Homo sapiens: one gene and its partners. The protein of the gene in region 2 purifies or fractionates together with the protein of the main gene of each other region. This does not show direct contact. Each region holds a gene or a part of one and is shown on either strand. Other genes may lie near its edges. The genes, in order: SERPINB5, CCDC82 and TF.

What was found.
Region 1: the proteins of CCDC82 (region 2) and SERPINB5 purify together in Homo sapiens (affinity purification with mass spectrometry; 2 studies listed by BioGRID and IntAct, with this or other methods). This does not show direct contact.
Region 3: the proteins of CCDC82 (region 2) and TF purify together in Homo sapiens (affinity purification with mass spectrometry; 2 studies listed by BioGRID and IntAct, with this or other methods). This does not show direct contact.

Annotation. Positions count from the first base shown.
Region 1 is NC_000018.10:63,486,822-63,490,479, reverse strand, and holds part of SERPINB5 (serpin B5), read right to left. Parts: intron 3,535-3,658; coding exon 3,397-3,534; intron 1,134-3,396; coding exon 1,016-1,133; intron 1-1,015. UniProt on the Homo sapiens protein: Tumor suppressor. It blocks the growth, invasion, and metastatic properties of mammary tumors.
Region 2 is NC_000011.10:96,355,570-96,359,047, forward strand, and holds part of CCDC82 (coiled-coil domain-containing protein 82), read right to left. Parts: coding exon 3,424-3,478; intron 3,051-3,423; coding exon of another isoform or gene 3,003-3,050; exon of another isoform or gene 1-3,002.
Region 3 is NC_000003.12:133,759,884-133,763,541, reverse strand, and holds part of TF (serotransferrin isoform 1 precursor), read right to left. Parts: intron 1-3,658. UniProt on the Homo sapiens protein: Transferrins are iron binding transport proteins which can bind two Fe(3+) ions in association with the binding of an anion, usually bicarbonate.

The DNA of each region.
Region 1 (3,658 bases), on a different chromosome or scaffold from region 2:
AGATGCAATTATAAATATATCCACTGGGGAGGGGGACAAAGTCACTGATTTGCCCTCAAAATCATCATAACCCTAATTCTTTTCCAGCAAGGAAGACGACTCACCGGCAATTTTAAGGGAGGGACGAGGAGTCCGACGAGGGAGACGCCTGGGGGAAGCACTGAGCCGGAGAAAGAACCTAGGAGCTTCTTGGACCCCGGGGCTATCAGAGGAACGACCAGCATGGGGAGCTGCGGCACCGAGGACAAGCTGACACTACGGTTTTGTTTGGTTTGGTTTTCTTTTTTTAAGACAGAGTCTCACTCTGTCGCCCAGGCTGGAGTGCAGTGGCGCGATCTCTGCTCACTGCAAGCTCCGCCTCCCGGGTTCACGCCATTCTCCTGTCTCAGCCTCCCGAGTAGCTGGGACTACAGGCGCCCGCCACCACGCCCGGCTAATTTTTTGTATTTTTAGTAGAGACAGGGTTTCACCGTGTTAGCCAGGATGGTCTCGATCTCCTGACCTCGTGATCCGCCCGCCTTGGCCTCCCAAAGTGCTGGGATTACAGGCGTGAGCCACCGCGTCCAGCCGGTTTTTCTTTTACATATGTTGCCTATGTCCCTTTTTCCTTAACAAATTTGTAAAATTTGTCAGCTGAAAGGGGCCTCGGGGATCATGAAGTTATAATCCAGTCCCTCTATTTCCAGACTGAAAAATGGCCTCATGATTGGCCCAAAGTCATACTTTGTTAGAGGCGCAGCTAGGATTCCACTAGGGCCTGTGACAGCTCGTCAGAGAGCAAGACAAAGTAAACTAACACTGAAGCATCAACAGTTTCTACCAAGTGATGAGATGATACAAGAATTGCCCAGAAATCCAAGTTGTTTACAGGCTTGAAGGGAAAGAATTTAGCTTGTGTAGTAAAAATATCCAGAGAATCCTCCAGATGTTTTTTTTATCCTTGGAGCAAACATTTATGAGATGGAAGGCCCTGTTTACTTGGTGATTGATAGCAGAACAATTAAAGGGTACTTGCCATCTGTGAGATCCTTAATTGAGTTGTTGATCTGACCTTTCGTTTCTTCCAATTTATCTTTGAAGTCAACAGTTTCCAATTCCTTTGCATACGGTCTCTTCGTAGAGCTGATGAACTCCTGAAAAACATGCAGTTCATAAAATCAGAGTCTGTAGTCAAGCTATTGCATTGTTATTCTCTTCTAACAAAAGGATTATTAAATATCAACTGCTATATGTACACTTTCAAAATTGGTAACACTATATGAATTGAAACCTCATGTAGAAGTCAGTGAATTTCTTTGTATTGAATGTTTCATTTTTTTCAATTATAAGACAATTTCAATTATTAAATGCATCTATCAATTTAATATCAGCTTTGGGGAAAACACTATGTTAAATATGCCCAATTCTCTTATGGGTTGTAATTTCAGAAACATGAAAATTTTGTATGTCTACAGATACATATATATTAGAATATAGGAAATGTATAGAAAACAGAATTATGAGCAGAAAACTCTTGTCTTTGCTGAACTAAATATCCTGTAGACCCTTGCTACTCAAACTGTGGTCCAAGGTGGTGTACAGCATCACCTGAGACCTTGTTAGAAATAAAGAATCTCAGACCCCACCCCAGACATACTGAATCAGAATGCATTTTAACAAAATTTCCAGGTGTGCCATCTGCAAATTAAGGTTGGAAACACAATGCAGGAGAGAACATAACAGGAGTTCTTATTCTAATGCTTATTTAAAATGTGCAACCCTAAACCCCATTCCCACCTTGACAATCAGAACTACCTGGGTTTAATCAGAACTACCTGGGTTCAATCAGAACTACCTGGGTGTTAAAAGGGCCTGAAGAACTTGCCCTTTTAACACCCAGATAGTTCTTATGCAAGAGATCCTCCACAGAGCACACTTGTTTGGACCTTTAACTAGTAAATTTGCAGATGCTGTGCACCTAGCAGGAGCAATGGAAAGCAGTCTTTTAAAAAATCTTTTGTAATGAGCCGAGATCATGCCGCTGCACCCCAGCCTGGGCAACAGAGAAAGACTCCATCTCCAAGGAAAAAAACAAAACAAAACTTTACAACTCCTAGTCTGGTTAAGATCATTCCAGATGTTGCATGGAAGTTCAGTGAAACTAAATATAACTTGATTCAGTGTCATGTCAGTTCACTTCCAAGCACAGGGCTTCTTGAATTTCTTCAGAGCAGCTTCAGCCTTAGCCAATTAACTTAGCTTCAGTTAATTGCAAATCAACCTTGGGACTCACTGTCACCATTGACTGACAGAACCAATCTCACCTGAAAACATTAGAAAGCCTCAGCCAGATGAAGGAGGGCCTCCATTGTCCTCACTGCCAGCAATAAAAATGTGTTAATTGTCTCTTTAATGATCATTTAGGGAGCTTCTAGAAATGTTGTATGCTCAGGCTTCAACTCACATCTCAGTTTTTTTTTTTAAATTCTTCAGATGATTGTTGGAAGAAAAATGGTTGTGTGTATGTATCTTTAAGCAACAAAAAATATACTCACAATATCTAGTAACCCATGTCCTCAAAAGATCTTAACCACAAAAATACCTACTGCAGAAAGTTGCAAAATCATGGTAAAATATTTAAAAGCTGGTAGTCTAGCTTTTCGATTTGGAAACCTTGAAATTCTGACCATCCAAACAGGAACTAAATCAACTCTGTGTTACTGAAGTACAGAGGGAAACTTCATGTAGTCTAGAATATTGTCTGTGTGTTTCAAATACAGATTTTTAAATATTACAACAATGGGTACCGTAGTGGTGTTTGTATGATTCCTTAGAGCAATGGCTAAACTTATATAACCAGAGCTGCCTGTGGAGATCCCCATCTGACCAGCCCAGCCAACAAAACTAATTTGTGACTGATGAAAATTGTGAATTCATAGTTATTATTTTTCTTACTGATTTTGAGAAACATCAGAAGAATGTGTGCATAAAAAATGAGGTGGAGAGCTTAAAACATTGTCCCAGGCCATATGCCCTGCTCTTTAAGGAGAAAGAAGTTTAAATCATTAGCTGTCTTACACTCTGTAAGACAGCTCATTGTCTATGGAGCTACATTTATTAGAGAGTTAATTACTCTGTTCTCCATTCTCTCAGAGGAAGGTAAAAGAAAGGGTAAGATTTATTTGAGAGAGAAAAGGAAAGCCCATAAGCTTCTCTGTATTTTGAGTTAGAAGATGTGACTGCAATTGATTCCCACTATACTCAACCTCTCCACTAGGATTTATTTATTTAAAGCCTCAAATCACAAGTGAACATCCTAGAAAGGAATTTCACTGAAAAAAAGTTGTAGGTCTAACAGCATGAAAATGCCACTCCTTGTAAAAAGTTAAGTCTTGCTACTTGCTTTAAACAACTTACTGTAGAAAGATTCAGAGATTTGTCTACGTAGAGCCGCTTGATTAGTTTCAGTGAGTAAAAGGAACTAAGTTTGTTTACATCCGATGTTACTGTTTGAAATCCAAAGGGTACATCTTTGACATTTTCAAAATGAAGAACCTGTTAAGAGAAAAATCCGTTACCCAAAAAGCATTGCCTCTGAGTAGTGCTGTACTGAAGTGGACACGTGATAATGACCAACGTCCTTGGGCATACAGACTCCTCCTGCCTAGTTCCCGTAAAG
Region 2 (3,478 bases):
AGAAATAAAATAGCTTGCTCCCAAATTCTACTGCTAGTAAGTGGCAAAGCAAATACTTAAGCTTATACTTTTAACCAGTTTAGAGTATGCTGTTTCTGAGATTTAAATGGTGTGGCTAGGATGCAGCTTTGGCAAGAAAAAAAAAACTTGGAAAGTGAAACTCACAGACATTGCAGTTAGTATTACTCTGCCATCCTCTCTACCTAAAGATACTGCTCTCATAATTCTTTACTAAACATTTGGAGGGTTTTAATAGTGAAGACTACTTATTTTAATAGTGAAGACTACTCTCTTACAACACCTGATGGACCTACTGATGAAAACAGTTGGAATTGTGGAAATGAAGTGTGGGAAAGAGGTCAGAATATAAGAGAAGTTTGGAATCTTCTACTCAGAAGTAGTAGCTACAACTGCAGAAGGGAATTGATTCGCCAAGGCAACTTTGAGAGGATGAGGACAGAATTCAGTGTTAACGGGTACTTTTTAGCAGTGATCCTCAAACTTTTATCTATTTAAGAATCATCAATGCTAAAAATATTGGATGTTTAACATCCACAAGGATTGTCATTCAATAAATCTGGGATGAGGCTAGGGGATTATACACTTTTCAAAAACTTCTAGGTGATTCTGATATAGGTAGTTTAGGGCCATGCTTTGAGAAACATCAGTTTAAGGGGTGGGGAAAAAAGGGGCAAGGGAAAAAGTTGAAAAGGAGGGGAAAAAGAAGAGAAGCGTTTAAGGAAGGCAAGGGATATCTAATTATAATTTTAAATTATTATGTATATGACAATATTTATCAGTGCATTTAAAATTTACATACAACTGTCACTTGTAACAGTTTTACACACAGTATTTACAGTATGAATGGGCATCTGATACTTCTATTGACATGCTTTCTTTACTACCTGGTGTTTATGCATCCACCAGCCAATCCCAACAATACTATCTTCAACTTCCCAGGAAGTCCCATCATCATATACACTTTCTTCTTAATGAACAAATATTCGTTAGAATTTTGCCAGTGTCATATTAGAGTATGTTATTGAACTCTTCTTTAGAATAAGACATGCATTATTATGTTTATTAAATATTTTGGTTTTATTATAATTTTCCTATTATCTATTCTTTTCTTATACTCAAGTTGCTCCTACACCCCTTTAGTATCATTACATTAAAAACGGATCACCCTAGTTCAACCTTTAGAAGGAAGAACAAAAAGAATGAAGTCAGTCTAGTTGGCATGTCTTTGGGAAGACATGCTGAGACATCCTGAGATAATTAAAGTAAAATGGCTGAAGAAGCAGGTAAGGGAAAAAGTAAGGTGTGGAATACAAGCTGGAGGCAGAAAGACAGGAACAAATAGTACGTGTAAGGCAACAAAAGGGGTTGACATAAATGGGAAATATGAGCGGAAAGTGCCATGGAGACGGCATTCAAGTAACACTGAGCCCCAGGCATTCTAAAGGGTTAGAGTAACTGTGACTACCAGACTGTAGCTAAAGGCAGCACACATCACAAAGTACATGCAGTGCTATCACTCAAAGGCACACAGTGAGAGGGACAGACAGAGTGAGGATGGGAAATGTCAGAGCACGTGACAAATTTTGAAATTTCATTACAGCACAAAAAGCTGCAAATGGGTTTATATTGGCTATAAACCTCTGTGGTTTCTAGGAAATCTTTTGAGAAAACCTAGGAACAAATTTTTTAAGTGGAGAAATCTCAAAAAAATGAAGGTCTTTGGTATTTTCATGGGGAAAAAAATGTGTATACTGTCCTAGACATGCACAATCTTGAAATACCTTCAATGCCTAATGCTAAATGTTATTCTTTATGTATAACATGACACTTGGCTTTCTTGAAAAGAAAGCCTAAGCTCCTTTCTTTTCCTAAGAAAAGAATGCCAAGTGTTATGCATAAAGAATAACGTCTTTAAAATTCCAGGTCCCTTCTGGTGTCCTAAACCTTGTTAAGCTTTTTCTAGGATACATGATTTGGAAATGCTTTTTTCTTCAAGAAGTTTAAAGTTCTTCCCCATATATGATACTATTATATAACATATACAGTATATGCACAGTGATTTTTCTATACCTAGTATCTAATTCTTTATAACTGTGCTATCCCAATAGGTTTTGCAGTTCCACTAGAGGGTTGGCAACACTTAAAGGCATCAATAAAAGCACTTAAGAATTTAATGTTGTCTAGGAAAATGAAGACGGGAAGTTATTGAATAAGTGCTCTCTCCTAAAGCAAATGAAAAAGTACGGATAAGCAGGGAGAAGCATTTGGAGTAGGAGAAGTAGAAGCAAAGTAAAAGACAAAAAGCTGAAAAGAATAAAATGAGAGAAAGACTTAAGGATCAAGATGTGGGGGGCAGGCAAGATCACTGGGTGGTGGTTTGTGGTGGGAGAAAAATTGTCAAAGGGAAACCAGTGATGATGTCATTATCTAGACTGGGAGACCTCCACTAAATATGACATGTGCTAAAAAAGTTTCTGTTTTGTTTTCTTTCCATCTGCCTAAGCTCTCTTGCCTTATTTTTTATATTCCTCTTTTACAAATTTCCCTATGATATAGTCCAGGCAATGGATCTCAAGTTAGGCTTTTTTCTTTTCTTTAAAAGATTAAATGTTGATAAGAGTTGCCTGAAAATCTACTATTTGTTCTCTCTTATACATTCATGTAACTAGACTTGTTTTAGAAGACTGCAGTCGTATTAGCATTCTTTCCATATACCATAAACAATTCTAAAAGCTCTGTGAGCAGACCAGAGCTTGTAAGCTGCCAGCAGATCTTCGGGAATCCAGTGCACTCTTCAAAACCCCCACTTTACTCCTGTTATCAAATTTAGTGATCAATAGGATATGGGGGAATCAAAATCAGTGCTGTGGTCTGAAACCTCTGCATTCCCCTCGATCTTCAGTTACAGTGCTCACTGCTCAGTCCCATGTCCTCAAGAAGAGGATGTGGGTGTATTAGAACTGGCAGCCGAGATCCTTTCCTCAGACTGGCACCAGGTGCTTCTTCACTCTCAGGTCACAAGAACTGTTCTAAAGAATAGGAAGCAGACAAGCAGAGGTGAGTCCTATACTCTGTCAAAAAAAAAAAAAAAAATCAGGGGACTTAATATATATGTAAGCAATACATACATAAAAGCGAAAGGACAGAGGTCCTTCAATAAAGGACAGTGTTAATGCTTATTAAAATTTATCTGATGGGCTGAGTGAATCCTTAGAACATCAGGGCATCTATTCAGAAGGACAATGATAAGCATGAAAGGAATGAGCGGAAGAAGAGAAAATACAAACGACAGAAGAAAGAGATTCTCTTAAATTTCACTATCTTTTAATCATTTGTTTCCTTTTGCTGATCATAATTAGCCTTCAGAATCTACATGATAAGATTCTCATATATTCACCTTACCTCCTTAATCCAGCCATTTTCTTTTGACCGCCTGAAAATTCTTTCCACTGTTTCT
Region 3 (3,658 bases), on a different chromosome or scaffold from region 2:
AATGTGTAAGTGGGCAAAAATAACAGGTGTGATTTATAATAGCAAAAAGAAAATTAAACTAAATGCTCAATGACAGAGAAATAGCTAAATAAGTGGAAGCACATCCATGCTATGGAATAGATATCAGTCTTAAAATATCATTTTTTTCTTTAAAACGTAAGTATGGCTATATTTATTTCTCTTAATTCATGCAAGATAGTAATTACACATCAGCAAATATTATCCTCAATAATGATTTGATTCATAAGCATTTGAAATGTATGTAATTTCACATCAATAGCCTTGCATTTTTTTAATACTGTAAGTTAAAAAGCACCCCCCAACAGCCACTTTATATATTTTCCATAACTCCCTCTACACATCCAAACTTTAAACATAAACTGAATATATAGGTCATGTTTAGAAACTTGAGGTTTTAGAAATCTGCTTCCTCACTATGATTCAGAAAACTCCTTATACTGACAATACAGTCACAGGTTAGGTAAAGGTAGTTGTAGGAGGGGAAAAGGAAAAAGACAGACACAAGTTTGCTCTCCTACTATTTTACTAATCCTGTCTGTTGAAAATGGTGATGTCTTAAGAAGTAAAAATCTAGGTTGAATATGAAGAATGGAGTTTGCCTCACAGTTTGAAACATGCATTTCAAATAATTTCCTATTTGATTTGAGCTCACTGTAGCAAACTGATGCCAAAAGAGAAAAATCATTTCTTCCACACATTCGCTCAGAGTCTGCCTGGTAATGTGTATTAAATTCTTTGTGTTTTAGCTTGAAGGCACCTGTCACCAGACCAGTTTCAGGATTCATGGGTCAGGGCTCAAACCAATTTTTAATAGATTTTCAAACTTTTTCAGACACGCCCAAATAGCAGCTTCAGAAAGTACTTTACGTATGGTAGTCCCCTCTTATCCTCAAGGGATATGTTCCAAGACCCCCAGTCTTGGAACCTGAAACCCTATACAATGTTTATTTCCTATACATACAAGCCTATGATAAAGTTTATAAATTAGGCACAGTAAGAGATTAACAACAACAATAATAAAACAATTATAACATACTATAATAAAAGTTATGTTAATGTGCTCTCTCTCTCTCTCAAAATATCTTAACATTTTTGGACCACGGTTGACTGTAGGTATAACCCAAGAAAGCGAAACCTCACATAAAGGGGGACTACTGCACCTCATCTTCTGTTTCACAACTGTTAGAGAGCTACTCTCAAGTTCCTGTAAGTCCTTTCTTTCAAGTTAGTTCTGTTAGTTCCTTTTGATTTGGCACAACAAATCCAATGACATAAGAACAATTAACTGTTTGCAAATGCACAAACGTCATCTATTACTGGGAGATTCTTCAGAGTTGGCTCTACTTTCCCAAGGGAAACATAGTCTCCTGCCTGTAGTTTTACAAGGTCCTTTTTATGATCGATCATCTGTAAACAACCATCAAACTCTTCAGCATCTCTAGGACATAATCACTTCTGTCCATTTCCATCTTCAAATAAATCAGCTTTTGTTTCTGCTTCATTTCTGTAGCATCCCATTGTCACATTTTAGCCACCGATAAGAATTCTACCTCTGGGATGTGGTTTTTCAGTATTAAAGTATCCACCTTCCTCCCAGTTCTTTAATTTAATTTCACAGCAAACTAATGGGACTCTCACTTCTGCCAGTCTTGTAATCCACACATCTGTAATTGTTCCAGCCCCTGTAGGTTCAGTGAGTCTGTATTCATGAACTTGCTGCGTGTTGCAGAAAGTGGAGCACTTTCATACAATAAAAGCTGAATATTTCCACCTAGCTAGCTTCACAGTTTCCAGAAAACAAAGCTGTCACACAATCCAGTACTATGCTCTTTTGAAATGTGTTCCATTTTATAATTATAAGCCAGAATAAACAGATTGTGTTGAAGACTACTGATTTCATACACTTAATTCATGACATTTTGGTAGATCTGATCCATGATTTCCAGAACAGCTGCCATCAGTGTTGGTCTCAACCCAGAAGTACACCCTTTGCTTCTGGTTTTTATTTTTTTATTTTTTATTTTTTTGAGATGGTGTCTCACTATGTTTCCCAGGCTGGACTCAAACTCCTGGGCTCAAGCAATCCTCCTACCTTAGCCTCCTGAGTAGCTGGTACTACAGCTGCATGCCACAGTGGGCAGCCCATTTTTTACTTTTAAAGACTGATCCACTGAAGTCTGGGGTGAAGAGGAGCCAAGCAGGCATCCATGAGAAAAACAAAGAAGCTCAAAGCTTAATTCTAGAACATGGGCCACAGGTAAATATCCAATGTAGTCATCTTCCTCCTCCAGTCTGGGAATCCTTTCTGCCATCCCAGTAATACCAGTAATGATGTTTCTATGCGAGATGATGACTCCCTTTGGAAGTCCTGTGTGTCTACTCATGAACATGATTACTGCAATAACCGAGGGCACTGGTCACTTTGGGATCTGTTTTCCACACTCACCTTCACTTTCTACTGCAGCCATGATGTCCATGATAACAACCTTGGGAAATTGGGACAGGTCAGTGGCTTCCCATTGACAGTGATGATGTGTCACAGGTGTGGGACCAAATAAACTATGTCTTTCAACTTTGTTTCCAATAATTCTTTACTAGCAATGAGATTAGTTACTTTTGTTTCATTAATCCATGGGCCCTGGACCTCCTAAAGTAGCATATAATTTTATGAACTAAATGTTATGCATGAAACATACCTATCCAGCAATCATCCACTTGGACGTGGTCTCACAGAACATGGCAATGTTGGTCTTTGGTTTCTGCCCCAACATCTGTAAGCTATTTCCAACATTAAAGGCTCAAACGATGACATCTTCATAGGAGAGCAAATTATGATGTCCAAGAAGAACCTTTTAAAATATGTTTACATTTGGTTGTACTTAATCTTCATTTAAGATTTCACATGTTCCCAAGAGTCTTTTGCTCTTCCTTTTTTTTACAGACGTAAAAAACTTTATCTATTGTATCACATCCAGAGTATAATATTGAAGCCCAGCCACTCAAACTGCTAACAGATTTGTATAGACTCAGGTTTTGAATTTGTAGGCTTTGCTTTAACTTAGTTTGGTTTTTCTTGTCTTGACTCAGACAAAAATTAAAATGGAATATATGTTAAAATAGCATAAAGTGATATCTATAAATTGTATGAAATATAAAATAATGAGCTTGATGGTCCCTTTTTGCTTCATGGTAGATAGTTCTGAAGATACATGGTTATTCATAAGTGCTCAAAAAGTAGAATTAACATATTTCAGCAAAAATCTGTTGACAATGGCAGGAAGTACCTTTATAATATGCATCTTTGTTTCAATATATTTGCTGATTTATTATAAAGGATCCAACTCAAGAATAGCCAAATGGAAGAGACACAGAGGGCAAGAAATGTGGGGAGGAGGGGGAGTGGAGCTTGGCACTTCATGTTCTCTCTAGGCAAACCATACTCCCCCATCTCGATGTGTGCACTAACACAGAAGCTCCAGATTAGGTTTTACAAGAATGATTTATGATATGGGAAAAGCTTACTAGATACTGTGAGTGAGTAAAAGGTAGCAAGCAACCTACATGAAATGATCCCAATAAGGGAATTTTCTCTGAATTACATGATTATAAGTACTTTTTATTTCTTCTTTATATCATT